Regions from separate parts of the Homo sapiens genome. Here region 2 is linked to region 1. Evidence: fine-mapped expression QTL. Tissue or cell type: whole blood. Region 1 holds a variant in brackets; the other region holds the start of a gene. All regions are shown on one strand. Distances are between the middles of the regions.

Region 1 (8,323 bases):
GATTAAAGAGAGGAATAAGGAGGTGAGTACATGACAAAGAGCCACAGTCGCAGGCGGTGGGGCCTGGCTCAGAACAGGCTGTGCTGGGAAGCGGGAGCAGGAGCTGGCGCCGCCTTGCGGGCTGGCAGAGGACCATCCACTCCCTGGCGCTGGGGCCGTCCCATCTCATGGGCAAGAAACGTGAGACCCCTGGCTCGCTCCACACACAACCTAAGTGCCAGATGGATGAGACGCCTACGCGTGAGTAAATGCCAGGAACATGAGACTCGAACGTGGCAGGATATCCTTCTGCCCACGAATCTAAAAGCTTACTCGGTAATGGGAGAATGGTTCCAATTTGATAAACTCGGGTTTTTGGAACGTCTGTGCTCCAGAAACACTGGAAGGCAAGTGGCTGCTGACTGGAGGAGATAATTGGATGCTGCAAGCGGCAAAGGGCTCGGGATGCAAAACACCGCAAGAAATGCAACAAGTGAGGAGCATTCCCGCAAAGAAAAAACGCACAGGCCGAGAGCAGTGGCTCACGCCTGTAATCCCAGCAGTTTGGGAGGCCGAGGCAGGTGCATCGCTTGAGGACAGGAGTTCGAGACTAGGCTGGCCAACATGGTGAAACCCCATCTCTACTAAAAATACAAAAAAAAAAAAAAAATTAACCGGCTGTGGTGGCGAGTTCCTGTGGTCCCAGCTACTCGGGAGGCTGAGGCAGGAGAATCGCTTGAACCTGGGAGACAGAGGTTGCAGTGAGCCAAGATCGTGTCACTGCACTCCAGCCTGGGCAACAGAGTGAGACTCTGTCAAAAAAGAAAAAAAAAATTGCACAAATGGCACAAAGAGGAAAAATCAAATGGTGAGACCCAAATAGCCAGGAGCTTTCTTTCTTTTTTTTTTTTTTTCTCCTTTCCTTTTTTCCATCCTTTTATCAGCCATAAAAAGGAAGGGAAGGTTGGGCTGGGCACAGTGGCTCATGCCTGTAATCCCAACGCTTTGGGAGGCCAAGGTGAGTGGATCACCAGAGGTCAGGAGTTCGAGTCAACCTGGCCAACATGGTGAAACCCCATCTCTACTAAAAAATACAAAACTAGCCGGACGTGGTGGCGTGCGCCTGTAATCCCAGCACTTTGGGAGGCTGAGACAGGAGAATCCCTTGAACCCAGGAGGCAGAGGTTGCAGTGAGCCAAGATTGCGCCACGGCACTCCAGCCTGGGCGACAGAGCGAGACTCCGTCTCAAAAAATAAAATAAAAAGGAAGGGAAGTTGAATAGACTACAGCATGGGTGGACCCTGAGTGAAATAGGCCAATTGAAAGGACAGATGTTACACGATACCATTTATCTGCAATGCTAGATTTGGGAGAGCCATTGAGGCAGAAGATAGGTGGTGGGTGCCCGGGGTTAAGGGGAGGGGACGGGGAGTCCATGTGTAATGGGGACAGAGTCTCTGGAGGGATGACGCATTCTGGAGGTGGACGGTGGTAATGGATACGCATGATGCTGCTGAACTGTGCACTTCAAAATGGTTAAGACAGTAGATTTTGTGTTTATACAATAAACCCAGAAAAGATGTATGCTGCACCACAAACCCAGAATAGGTTTTACGGAGATTTTCTTGGTGTTTTTGTTGTTGTTTGAGACAGGGTCTGGCTGTGTTGCCCAGGCTGGAGGGCAGTGGCACAGTCATAGCTCACTGCAGCCTCAACCTCCTTGGCTCAGGGAATCCTCCTGCCTCAGCCTCCTGAGTAGCTGGGACCACAGGCGCACACCACCATGCCTGGCTAATTTTTATTTATTTATTTATTGAGATGGAGTCTCGGTCTGTCACCCAGGCTAGAGTGCAGTGGCATGATCTCAGCTCACTGCAACCTCCGCCTCCCAGGTTCAAGCGATTCTCGTCCCTCAGCTTCCTGAGTAGCTGGGATTACAGGCGCCTGCCACCAGGCCCAGCTAATTTTTGTATTTTTAGTAGAGACAGGGTTTCACCATGTTGGTCAGGCTGGTCTCGAACTCCTGACCTCGTGATTCGCCCGCCTTGGCCTTCCAAAGTGCTGGGATTACAGGCATGAGCCACTGCACCTAGCTATATTTTTATTGTACAGACAGAGGTCTCACTGTGTTGGCCAGGCTGGTCTCAAACTCCTGAGCTCAAGCCATCTATCACCTCGGCCTTCCAAAGTGCTGGGATTACAGGTGTGAGCCACCGTGCCCAGCCTACAAGGATTTTCATTCCTGCTTTGTCTGAAGTTGAAAAAGTTTTGGAAAATCTAAGCATCGTTTAATAGAGAATCGCTAAGTAAAATGAGGCAGCATCGTGGGTGGAATATCAGCACCAAAGCGCCAAGCCTTGTGGTTAAAGGTGGCAGACCATCTTCAGTCTTCTTAGCCCCTTTCAAGTCCCCTACTATATCAGAAAGGGTTGGCTGGTTGCTTTTAAAGCACGAGCCGCAGAATGGAGAGAATGGGCGACTGGAAGGCAGGCTGAGGATGGTGAGGGGCCCTGCTGGCCAGTCAGAGAGGTATCCTGGCACCTGTGGGGCAGGTGAGCTGGGAGCTGGAGGTGTGAGCAGTGTCTGCACAGAGCCTTCTCTGTACGCTGGGCTCAGATCAACGGGCTCAAGGGATAGGCTGCCTCCTTGACTTCTAGGAGGCAGCAGCATGAGTGGGAGTCGAGGGAGGCTGTCGCAGGGCGGCCTGGGTGGGAGCAACAGTGTCGGTTTTAGCTGGTTCTACCCCGTGGGACCTCCGTATCTGTCTGGGCCTGGGTGTGGGTGCATGAACGAGGACTGCTGCTCTGGGGAGGGAGTGTGCCAGGTGCCAGAAGGGCAGGAGGAAGACATGGCTGTCCCCCCACACCAGCTGGAAGAAGGCTTGGGGGAGGAGGTGGTCAGGGAGCTCTTGTCTGCTGGCCTCAGCCACCTGTCGGGTGAGACCCAGAGCCAGGAAGACAGAGCTCAAAGGAGCCCTTCCCAGGCACCGCAGGCCTTGCTGCTTGTTGGCCCGCATGCTGCAGCCCCACCCGTGGCCAGGCCCACCAGCAGGCCCGCCGGTTGGACACCTGGTCAGAGTGGGCTGGGGTCCATGGATGAGAGGTGTTGAGGGGAGCCTCTTCTGCACTCAGGATGTGGGGCTCGCTGCAGTGGGGGCTGCGGAAGGGCCCCTGCCTGGCTGGAGAGCTCAGCCTGAGAAGCAGGGCTTGCCCTCCCCGCACCCCATGTCCTCACTGCTTCCTGGTCCTGTAGCCCCTGGGTGTCCATCTTGGGTCAGGACCCACAGGAAGGCCAGGGAGGAGGATGGAGCAGGGCCTGGGTGGCGATCCGGGCCGAGGCCCCTGGAATAAGGGCATAGGAGTGACAGGGGGTCCCGTCAGAGGGTCCTGGATGCAGCATCCCTCCCTGGAAAGCCTGGGGTGTGGGCGTGACACATGCGACCCTGCGTCTCCCAGCCACATGCAGATGAGGATGCAAGAGCAGCCTTCAGACGACAGAGTTTATTTCAGACTCAGCCTCCACTCAGGCCCGGGGTTCCTGTGGCCACTGGCCAGTGAGGGCAGGCCACGTTCTCACAGTGCCCACCACCACCTTCTGGGAGTTCGCCTGCTGCTGCGCGCCAAGGGCCACGCTGGGACTGGATGTGCTAAGGAGGGGCTGCACGAGGGGCTTCCCCAGGTGCAGTGGGCTGAGGACAGTGTGTGACGGTCGCCGCCAAAAGCAGTTCTACTCTACCTGTTATTGCATTATACGCTGGTTAGACTCAGGTGGTGCTGGGTGCAAGCTGGAGGGGCAGTCTAGCGGGGCAGGGCGGGCACAGCTGTGAGGGGCCCTCGACATCCCTGCCTCCCCGCCGGCGTCGGGGCTCCCCTGGAGCACAAGCTGGGGAAGGCGACCCTTGGGCAGCACCCCCTCCACACGCAGGCTTCAGGGCTCCGTCTTCCCACCCAGCTAGGCTTGGGTGGTGTGGGGAGGTGGCATTGAGGCTCTGCTGAGGTGAGTGCCCACCCCAGGTCCGTCCCACTGCATTCGCCCAGGCAGACCCCCGGGGGGTACGCAAAGAGCAGAAATGGGGCGAGTGGAGCCACCGCGCCCTTTAATGTCCCCACGAGGGCCGGGCCCAGGCCCAACCCATCCCGGCACCCCCACCTGCACTCAGACCAGCCCTGGGGGCCCAGGATCACCCAGCCGCCAGGGGTGGGGGGGGCCACACACAGGGTCCATTCCTTTCTTGCCGTTCCCCAGCTGTGCCCTCGCCCCACATCCTGTGCTGTGGACCCCGGAGCCTGGGCTCTTTCTGCCCTGGAGGTTGGGGAAGTCCTGGGTCAGCAGGGGTGGGCTCGGGCGTCCTC[T/A]TCACCGTGCGCGTGTGTTGGGGGCGTATGTAGGTGTGTAATGAATGTGCGTGTGTACGAATAGGTAAGGGTGAACTCTGCATGCACTGGCTTCCTCGGGTCTGTACAGGAAGTGGCTCCGTGCCCCCCGCCTGGCCCCCAGGTATTATTTTTTCCGGACCAGGAAGGCCACACCGAGAATCAGGGCTATGGCTGCCACGGCCACACCCCCAGCCACCAGCAGGGGGTTGAAGTTCTCACAGGACCAGGGACCTCGGCCCCCAGGCCCCCCACTGGCAGCCTCATCTTCCTCCGCCCCGTCCCCAGGACCCTTGGGCTCCGGGGTTGCATCGGGACTGCTGGGGACCGTGGGGGCTGGCTTCAGGTTGCTGTGGTTGTTGAGAAGGGCAGGGTCGGCCTTGGCCGAGGTCTTCTTGGCAGGTGCCGTGGTGGGGGCTGCTGGCGGCTGCTGCTTCTCGGCCGGGGCCTCCTTCTTCGAGGGCTTGGTCAAGGGGGCTTTCCCATCGGCTGCCGGGGGTACCTTGGCCTCGGTGGTGACCTGGGGCACCTTGGTGTCGGGCTTGGGGCTGCTGGCTGACTTCCCTCTGGACTCCATGGTGGGCGGGGCGTATGGGACAGGCAGGTGGCTGCACCAGAGGGGCTCAGGACAGTTTGTCGCCCCTGGGCATTCTATGGGCCTGGAGGGAGACACAAGGGAGGCTGCGCGCGGGTCCAGTCCCCCCTGTGCTGCCCCGACCACCTGGTCCCCAGGCAGCCCCTGCCCAGTTCTCTGGACTCTCTGGAGCCCCAGCTCAGGGGCCTCCCGTGGGCCTCTGACACTTCTCTTTCACGGCCTGGACTCCATCTGTCCATGACCACTCCTCAAGGGGCCCCTCCAGCCGCAGAGGCAAGGGCCACGCACAGGTGGGAGGAGGTAGGGGACCCCACTGTGCTCCATAAAATGGCCCATGCAAATGCCACATCCTCCCACCAGCCGGGGGCAGGAGGCTCTTGGTGGGGAAGTAAGGATCAGGCCCAGAGAACTCGAAGGAAGAGCATTCTCCCCTCCAAGGAGGTGATCGGAGCCCCAGTGGGAGAGCTGACTGCATCCCCTCCTCAGGAGAGCATTCCTGCTTTGCAGAGATGGACACTAAAGCACGGAGGCTGTGACCTGGCCAGGGTCCCAGGGGGAGGAGGGCGGGGAGGGGCAGGAGCTGGGATCTCAGGCAGCCATCAGGGTGGGTGGGCCCACAAGAACCCAGACTTGAGAAAACTGGGGTGTCTCTCCAGGAAGTCAGCGTGGGGCTGTGCTTCCAAGGGCCGTCTGCCCCTCCCCAGCCTCTGGGGCCCCCTCCTCAGCATGGGCCGTGCCTGCCTCCAGCCCTGGAGCAGGGAGTCCTCGCCCAGCCCAAGGCTGTGCTGTCTCTGTGGGCAGAGGGTTCCTGGCGTTAAACAGGGTGGGCACATGCTGCACTTGGCCCGCGGGTCAGGGCGGAGGACAGGGTTCTGGGCTGTGGGAAAGGCGGTGCCCAGATTCTCAATGACCGAGGCAGAGGTGGGAAGGGCCCTGGGGGCCCAGCCGCCCTGAACCTGAGTGGGTCTTGCCCCAAAGCCCCAGAGGCCGCCTGTCTGCCTCTCCCAGGGAAGGATGAGAAATGCCCTCCAGACCTGCAGAGAAAGGGAGGCACGTTCCCCACCCCCCGCCAGGTGCATTGACCACACTGAAGGTCACCCGAAGGTCACAGCATGATGAGGGCGTCTCCAGAAGAGGCCCAGCTGCTGCCACCTCCCAGGGAAGCCCAGCCGTCCCTTCACCCCTGCAGTTCTCGGGGGGCTCAGCTGCTGGGCATCAAGTTTGCAAAGAGCAGGTGGTCTGCCCCCCCAACCTCGCTATTTGTGGCACTTACATCCCGGCCGCCGCCTCCCTCTCCCGGGATCAACTGAGCCCTGGAGAACTGGGGGGCCCGCGCGCAAACCCAGTGACCTTCAAGGCCCGGAGCCGCCTCCTCGCCCCGCAGGACGCCGCGCCCGCCCCGCCCGCCCCGCCCGCCGGGAGCCCCCCGCCTTACGCGTCCTCCGGCCTCCCCGGGGCTGCGCGCTCCTCCGCGGGATGACGGCGGCTGCGAACGCGGAGGAGAGCTCGGGAGTTTCCCACAATGCACTGCTCCCGGCGCAGGAGGGCGGGGAGGGGGAGGGGCGACCGGGCCCCGCCCCGCCGGGAACCGTGGGATCCGCAAACCCAGCTCCGCCTTAGATCCAGGGGTAGAAACTTAGGGTCCGAGAGAGCAACTGCGGGGTCCAAGTCCCATCTGGGACTGCCAGAGGCAGGAGGCGGGTCCCGCTCAGCATCCCCTCTAGGCCAGGGTGCCCCTTGGTCGGTGGGTGACGGGTCGGTGGGTGAGGGGTCGGTGGGTGGGTGCGCAGGCCTAGCCCTGCAGTCTGAAGGGAGCCAGTTATGGGAAGAGGGGACTGCCCTCCCCCGCCCCCAAACAGACCCCCAGACAGACAGCAGCATCTACTTAGAATATTTATTTATTCTCTGACATGACAAGACACAAAAAGTTACAACTTCTTAAAACTCTTCAAAAGAAAAAAATATAATTCTGTAAGCAGCAGCAGCAGCTTCCAAGGTTCTGATGTGACGGGAGGGGCAGCTCCCAGGAGCAACCGTGAACTGGGGGGGTCCAGGCCTGAGCCCCAGGTAGTGTCGCTGGGAAGGGGCCTCTGTGGAGGGCCCCGGTTTTGGGGACACAGCACCAGCACATCAGGGTCTGTCACCAACACGATCACATGGCCAGGGCGGGGCAGGGAGAGCTTCGGCTCACAGCAGGGATCGCCCGGTGGCAGGGGGGATGGGGCTTCTGAAGTGTGGTCAGGGGCCTTATGCCCGGAGGCGGGAAGGATGGGGCTTCTGCAGTGTACCCAGGGGCCTTATGCAGAGGCTGAAAAAGGAGGGTGGGCCCTGAGAGGACTTGGGGGTGTGGCAGCTCCTGGCCCTCCCTCCAGAGCAGGGCAGGCACCCTCAGGCTCCACACTGGTCCCAATGCCCGCCCTGCTCCCTGGCCAATCCCAGGCCAGGGTGGAGGACTCAGGAGAGACCAAGCTGGGTAAGTTAGTTCCTGGACGGGGTCAACAGAGCCTGGGGCACACACAGCACACAGAGCGCCTGGCCACGGCGGGAAGGGGGGCAGTCCCCAGCAGCCCCATCCCCAAGGGCCAGGCCAGATCCCCACAACACACACACGCATGCACACACACATACACACACACATGCACACAGACCTCACAATCTGGGCCCCAGCCTGGGGTGGGAGCTGAGGAGCCCACCAGAAAGTCCCACAGTGGGTGGCGGGCTTGCCCCAAGAGTCAGACCTCAGGGCAACCCCTCACTTGGGATTCCTGGCTCAACAGAGAGGGCAGGAGACCCCAGTCCTCTTGCAAGGCTGGCCAGGGAGGCAGAGTCAAGTCCTGCCAAGGCGACAAGAGCGGCTGGGGAAGGACGGAAGGGCTGGAGAGCCGCTTGGGTCCAGCAGATTCAATAAATAGGTTTGTGTGGGGTGCCTGTGTGGGCCAGGATGGCTGTGGAGACTGGAGCTGGTGGACTGGGGGTATGGTCCAGCCTGCCCGGCCCAGGCCCGGGGGCCCCCAGCCCAGAGACCAGCTCTGTCCCTGGGGGTGTTCAGGCCAGGGCAGGATTGGGGCAGGGGCTAGCTTGAGGAATGTAAAGATTTCTGCATTTTCTACATAAATGAGACATTGATCCCAACGGTGCAGGCAGCACCCCGGGGGGCTTGCGTGTGCACCACCTATGTGGACCCTGCACCCTGCCCCCTGCTGCCCCTGCCGACGGGAGGGCTGGGGAGGGGTCTTCCCTTGCTCCGTCCTGGGCTAGCTGCCTGGCTCCAGCCCCACACCGGCCCTGCCCAGCTGGCTGGGGTGGAGCGGGTGCTGGGCTCAGGCCTGGGGGTCCTGCAGCAGCCCCAGCAGGGACTCCGCGATGCCCAGGAAGTAG
Region 2 (5,000 bases), 40 kb after region 1:
CCCCTCACACGGTGACACAGTGGGGTGTGTGACTGTTTTGGGGCTTGGCCAGCTGTGGGGGCTGAGGTTCCTGAAACCAAGCACAGGGGACCTGGGAAAGCTGGGCCCCTGCTCCACTTGGGCGTTTGGCCCAAAGTTCTCTGTCCCCCCACCCTCACAAGCCTCTCTGGCCTGGTGCACATACCTTCTTGTTCCCCTGCCCAGCCTCCTGCCAGTACACAGGGCAGGGCTGGGATATGGAGGCAGGTGAGGTCCTAGCTGAAGGGGACTCAGCCCTGTGCTGGGGAAGTGGTTTCCTGAGGGCATCCTCTTCATGGCAGGGAGGCCATGAGGGGAGAAGGCCAGCCCTCCTTGGCAACCAAAAAGGCCCCATGGCCTGAGGGTGCTGGAGCCAGCCCCCACCTGCTCCTCCCAGAAGGCGTGGGGTGGCTGTGGTGGCAGCCCCCTGCCAACAATAACGGTTGGTTCTGGGATCTGGGACTGGGCGAGCCGGCCAGGCAGGTCCCTGATGTGCCTGTGCCAGAGGCCACCCCCCTTGGTCTCAAGGTCCTGTCCTATAAGCCCAGCCTTTTGTGGTTCAGCTGGGTCGCACGCTGGATCCCAGGCCCCTTCCTTGAAAAGCAGAGGCCTTGTACCCCCCAGGGTTGCCGGGCGGGACAGTGATTCCAGCCCTTCAGGTGGGTGCAGGGGCCAGGCTGGGGCTGGGGCTGGGGAGGGCTCCTCGGTCTGGGGTGGAATTTTCTCCCCCCACAGGAGGGTTTCACTCGGGCCTCAAGCAGCTCCTCCTTCCAATCCTCCCCCAAGGGGAGCCCCAGTCAGGGCTGGGCCCCAGAAGGAGAGCCAGGAGGGGCTACTGAGGTGGGACCTGCCTGAGTCCCCAGCTCGTTCACCCATACATATACACTGAATACTGCTAAGTTAAACATTTTCTAGCATTACACGTTCATTGTTTTGTTTTGAGATGGAGTTTCGTTCTTGTTGCCCAGTGCAATGGCACAATCTCGGCTCACTGCAAACTCTGCCTCCCGAGTTCAAGTGATTCTCCTGGCTCAGCCTCCCAAAGTGCTGGGATTACAGGCGCCCACCACCACACCTGGCTAATTTTTTGTATTTTTAGTAGAGACGGGGTTTCGCCATGTTGGGCAGGCTGGTCTCGAACTCCTGACCTCAGGTGATCTGCCCCTGTCTCAGCCCCCCAAAGTGCTGGGATTACAGGCGCCCGGCCTACATGTTTATTGTTTAAAAACCGGGAAAGTATAGAGAAGAAAGTAAAGGCTCCCCACCCCTAGAGATAACCGCTGAAAGTATTTGGTCTGTTTCCTGCCCGGCTTTTTCCTACACACACTTTTTGGCGCCTTAAGTCGGGCTCCCCCCGGACAGGAGGGGCCCCTCCCAGGCGCTGGTGTCTGCGCCCGCCCCCCGCAGCCTTGTCCCTGCTCCGGGGGGTCCCTGGGTCTCTGGGGCATATCGTTGCTTCACTGCTCGCTCGAGCCTCCAGGGATCGGGCCGCCGGGGCAGCGCAGAGAGGCGGGGACAGGCGACAGCGGCGCAGAGTGGCTCCTCCCGGGGCCGGCCCAAGCGGGGGTCTCGGTGCCTGCGAAGCGGCAGGGGTCGCTCGGGGCCCAGTGCCCTCTACGTCCCGTCCGGGTCCCAGCTGGGGCGGGGCGCGCCCAGTGTTTCCGGGAGGAGCGGCCCGGGCGCGCGGCAGGTGCGGCGGCGCAACTCGCGGGTAGGCGACCGCTGGTCCCGCCGCTGAGGCCCCTCCACTGCCGCCCGCCCGGCACCCCCTCCGGGCCGCCGTGGCCCGCGCCAAACCTGAGCGTCTCGGTCGGGAACTCCGGTTACCCCCTCGGGGCGCAAGGCGGCAGGGGTAAGGGCGGGGTTGTCCCCCAGAGTTTCGGGGAGCACAGGAGGCTGGCCGCCCCACCCCACCAGCCCATCCTCCCACCTCCCTGGGGCCCTGCTGCCGCGCGGCTTCCGGCTGGGGTGGACCTCAGGTCTAGCCGGCAAGCCGGAGGGCGGGCGAGACAACAACGTGGCCTGGAGGCAATGGCCCTGGCCTCTCGTGTCCCCTTCTCTCACCCGCCCAGACTTGCCCTCTTTGGAGGTCGCCCGGGCTAAGGAACATGGAAGGACGCTGGGTGGAGAGTGAGGGGAGAGGATCCCAGCTCCCCGGTGGGGGAAGGCGGGTGTTGGTGGGGAGCAGCTTTGGGAAATCCGGGATCAGGACATTGTGTGAAGGACAGGTGGCTCTGGTTAGGGGGCGGGGCGTCCCTGCAAGGAGGTGGGAAGGGAGGCCCCAGGGAGTTCTGAAACGGGGAAGGGCCTCAGTGTTGTGGGGCAAGGGTGTTAGGTCTCGAATCTGGAAGTGTTCCTGAGTGGGGCGTCAGAGGCGAAGGGCTCTGCAGGCTGGGACCTTGCCCCTGCACTCTGTGGGCTCAGTTGTGGGGAGGGAGGGGCCGGTGGGCAGGAGGGAGAAGTCTGCCCTGCCTGCCAGCTGTCATGAGGCTGGGCCACACAGGCCCAGGCCAGGGGCTAAGGACTTGGTCAGGACTGGCTGAGCCCTCACTTGGGATCAGATCTCCAGTTGCAGAGTGTGAGGGGCTCCTCCCTCACTGACCCCAAGCCTGCTCCTCTCAGCTTTCAGGACCCCACCTTCCTTATCACCAGGTCTTCTCCACTGGCCCCTGAGATTGCCATCACCTCCAGCTCCTCCTCTCCTGAAGTTGGCAGCCCCTCCTGGGTTCCAGCCTCCTGAGATGCCAGACCCACTGGGGCAGTACCCACAGGCCCTGAGCCTACATCAACCACCCCAGTGACACCCCAAGCCTGCAGCATTTTCCACCCCCAGCCCCCTGGTCCCACCTTGCCTTCCGCCCACCTTCCCACCTGCTGCAGGGAGGGCCCTCGGCTGAGCCTTCAGACACACTTGCACCCCATCCGCTCCCCTCCTGAATTTCTTCTGACCCTCCCTTGGCTTCACAGCACCTGAAGGCCAGGCTGAGGCCCCCTGCTCTCATGGCCAGCCCTGGAAAGCCTGGGGCTGATGAGGCCCAGGAGGAGGAGGGGGAACTCGAGGGGGGCTCTGCAGGGCCGCGGGCTGCAATACTGGAGCAGGCTGAGGAGCTGTTTCTGCTGTGTGACAAGGAGGCTAAGGGCTTCATCACCAAGCACGACCTGCAGGTGAGTCCCCCACCCCAAGAGACTGCTTCGGCCCTGGGTTGACCGCAGCGGCTCATCTCTGCTCTCCTTCCCCGACCAGGGTCTCCAGAGCGACCTGCCCCTCACGCCAGAGCAGCTGGAGGCTGTGTTTGAAAGTCTGGACCGGGCTCACACTGGCTTCCTCACCGCCAGGGAGTTCTGCCTGGGCCTGGGTGAGCCTGTGGCCTGCCTATCCCCCACTGCCCAGAGCTGGAGGCCTGATCAGGAGGCCTGGCACTTGTGGCGCCCTGAGGGCTGCCGGTGCCTCTCGTCCTCCTCCCTCCAGGGCCCGTGCTTTGTCTGCACGCACTCGCGCCTGGGGGCTCCTAGCTGCGGTGGAGTGTGTGGAGCTGACCTTCCTGGCCCCCAGCTCCTCTCCTGTGCTAAGCTCCGGTAGGGCTGGGAGCTGGCCTGTCACCTCTTGTTTCCAGGCCAATAGGACCAGAATAAGGAAGGAAAACAGGAAACTGGGCCCTGAGAGAGGGCAGGATACTCGTTGGGAGGGTGAACGGGGACACAGCCACGGTGGCGACCCACAGCCCTGGTAATCGCTCGCTCCATGCCCGCAGGGATGTTTGTGGGGGTGGCGTCAGCCCAGGGAGCGAACCCCTGCAGGACTCCCGAGGAGACCTTTGAGTCGGGCGGGCTCGACGTGCAGGGCACGGCGGGCTCTCTGGATGAGGAGGAGGAAGAGGAGGAGCGATTCCACACTGTGCTGGAGCAGCTGGGGGTGGCCCCGGTCCTGGGCAAGTGAGTCGGCGCTGGCCCCGCTCCCACTGCCCGCTCTGCTGTTTCTCTGCCTGCATGCTGTCTGCCCTTGTCACCCGAGTGCTGGTTCTGCACAGGGTCTCTAGGCCGGGTCAGGCCCAGCCTAGCGTCAGCTGCGATTCCCTGGGAGGGACCCGGCATGATTTCCCGCAGAATTTGCATTTCATGAGGCAGCAGCCAGGGCTGCAGGGAGGAGGGGCAGCGCCGGGCGCGGGGCCACATACCGGCACTGCCCAGGGTACACACACCTCACCGACCACGCACGCCGGGCAGGGGCGAAAGCGCTCACGGGAGGGATGCCCTGCACGCAGCAAGTGCTCCTGTCCTGCCCAGGGGCGAAGAAGTCTCCTAAGGGTTTGCTGCTGGCGGAGGGAAGCCTGCTTCCCGCTTCTGCCAGCTCCAGCCTCAGTTCCCGCCCGCCCTCCAGGCAGCGGGCTGTGAGGACGCTCTGGGCCAGGCTGCAGCGCGAGCGCCCCGAGCTGCTGGGCTCTTTCGAGGATGTTCTGATACGCGCGTCGGCCTGCCTGGAGGAGGCGGCCCGGGAGCGCGACGGCCTGGAGCAGGCGCTGCGGAGGTGAGGGCCGGGGTGGGGTATGGGGGCCAATGGAGGGCCTCAGGGCAGCAGCAGAGGCGGTGCCAGGGGGCTGTAGCGCTGGCAAGTTCTCATCCGGGGTCGCCCGGTCCCCCGAAGGCGCGAGAGCGAGCACGAGAGGGAGGTGCGCGCTCTGTACGAGGAGACGGAGCAGCTTCGGGAGCAGAGCCGGCGCCCGCCGAGTCAGGTGGGCCTCGGGCCCCGCCCCTCCCGCCAGGCCCAATCCCACCTCGCTGGCCTCCCTGGCTCCGCCTTCTCTGAATTAATCCCTCCCCGACGGCCCCACCTCCGCGGGTCCAGGCTGCCCTCAGCCCGAGGAGATCCCACTGGGCCTCACGTATCACCCCCGTCCGGTCTTCTCCACCCGACCCCGCTCCGCCCGGGCCCACTCCCAGCCCCTGGCCCTCCGTGTACCTCTTTTGCATGGCCGAGCGGCCGG

What was found. PIP is the estimated chance that this variant, and not a neighbour inherited with it, causes the effect.
Region 2: it holds the start of CRACR2B, and the variant in region 1 is fine-mapped to the expression of CRACR2B in whole blood (INTERVAL, PIP above 0.99).

The regions. Positions count from the first base shown.
Region 1 is chr11:783,650-791,972 of GRCh38, forward strand. CEND1 (cell cycle exit and neuronal differentiation 1) reads right to left here and starts at 6,441. Exons shown (of 2, transcript NM_016564.4): 1 at 6,381-6,441; 2 at 3,466-5,009. The coding sequence starts at 4,927. The coding sequence ends at 4,478. SLC25A22 (solute carrier family 25 member 22) reads right to left here. Exons shown (of 10, transcript NM_001191061.2): 10 at 6,826-8,323. The coding sequence ends at 8,266. It overlaps GATD1-DT (GATD1 divergent transcript), which reads left to right. Exons shown (of 2, transcript NR_126343.1): 2 at 1-648. RefSeq lists enhancers at 1-145, 146-833 and a silencer at 6,352-6,581. The variant T/A (reference allele first, on the strand shown) is at 4,333.
Region 2 is chr11:825,590-830,589 of GRCh38, forward strand. CRACR2B (calcium release activated channel regulator 2B) reads left to right here and starts at 2,330. Exons shown (of 9, transcript NM_001286606.2): 1 at 2,330-3,183; 2 at 3,263-3,374; 3 at 3,771-3,951; 4 at 4,397-4,543; 5 at 4,661-4,748. The coding sequence starts at 3,019. RefSeq lists silencers at 1,433-2,052, 2,293-2,382, 4,577-5,000 and enhancers at 1,753-2,291, 2,832-3,369, 3,370-3,909, 3,910-4,447.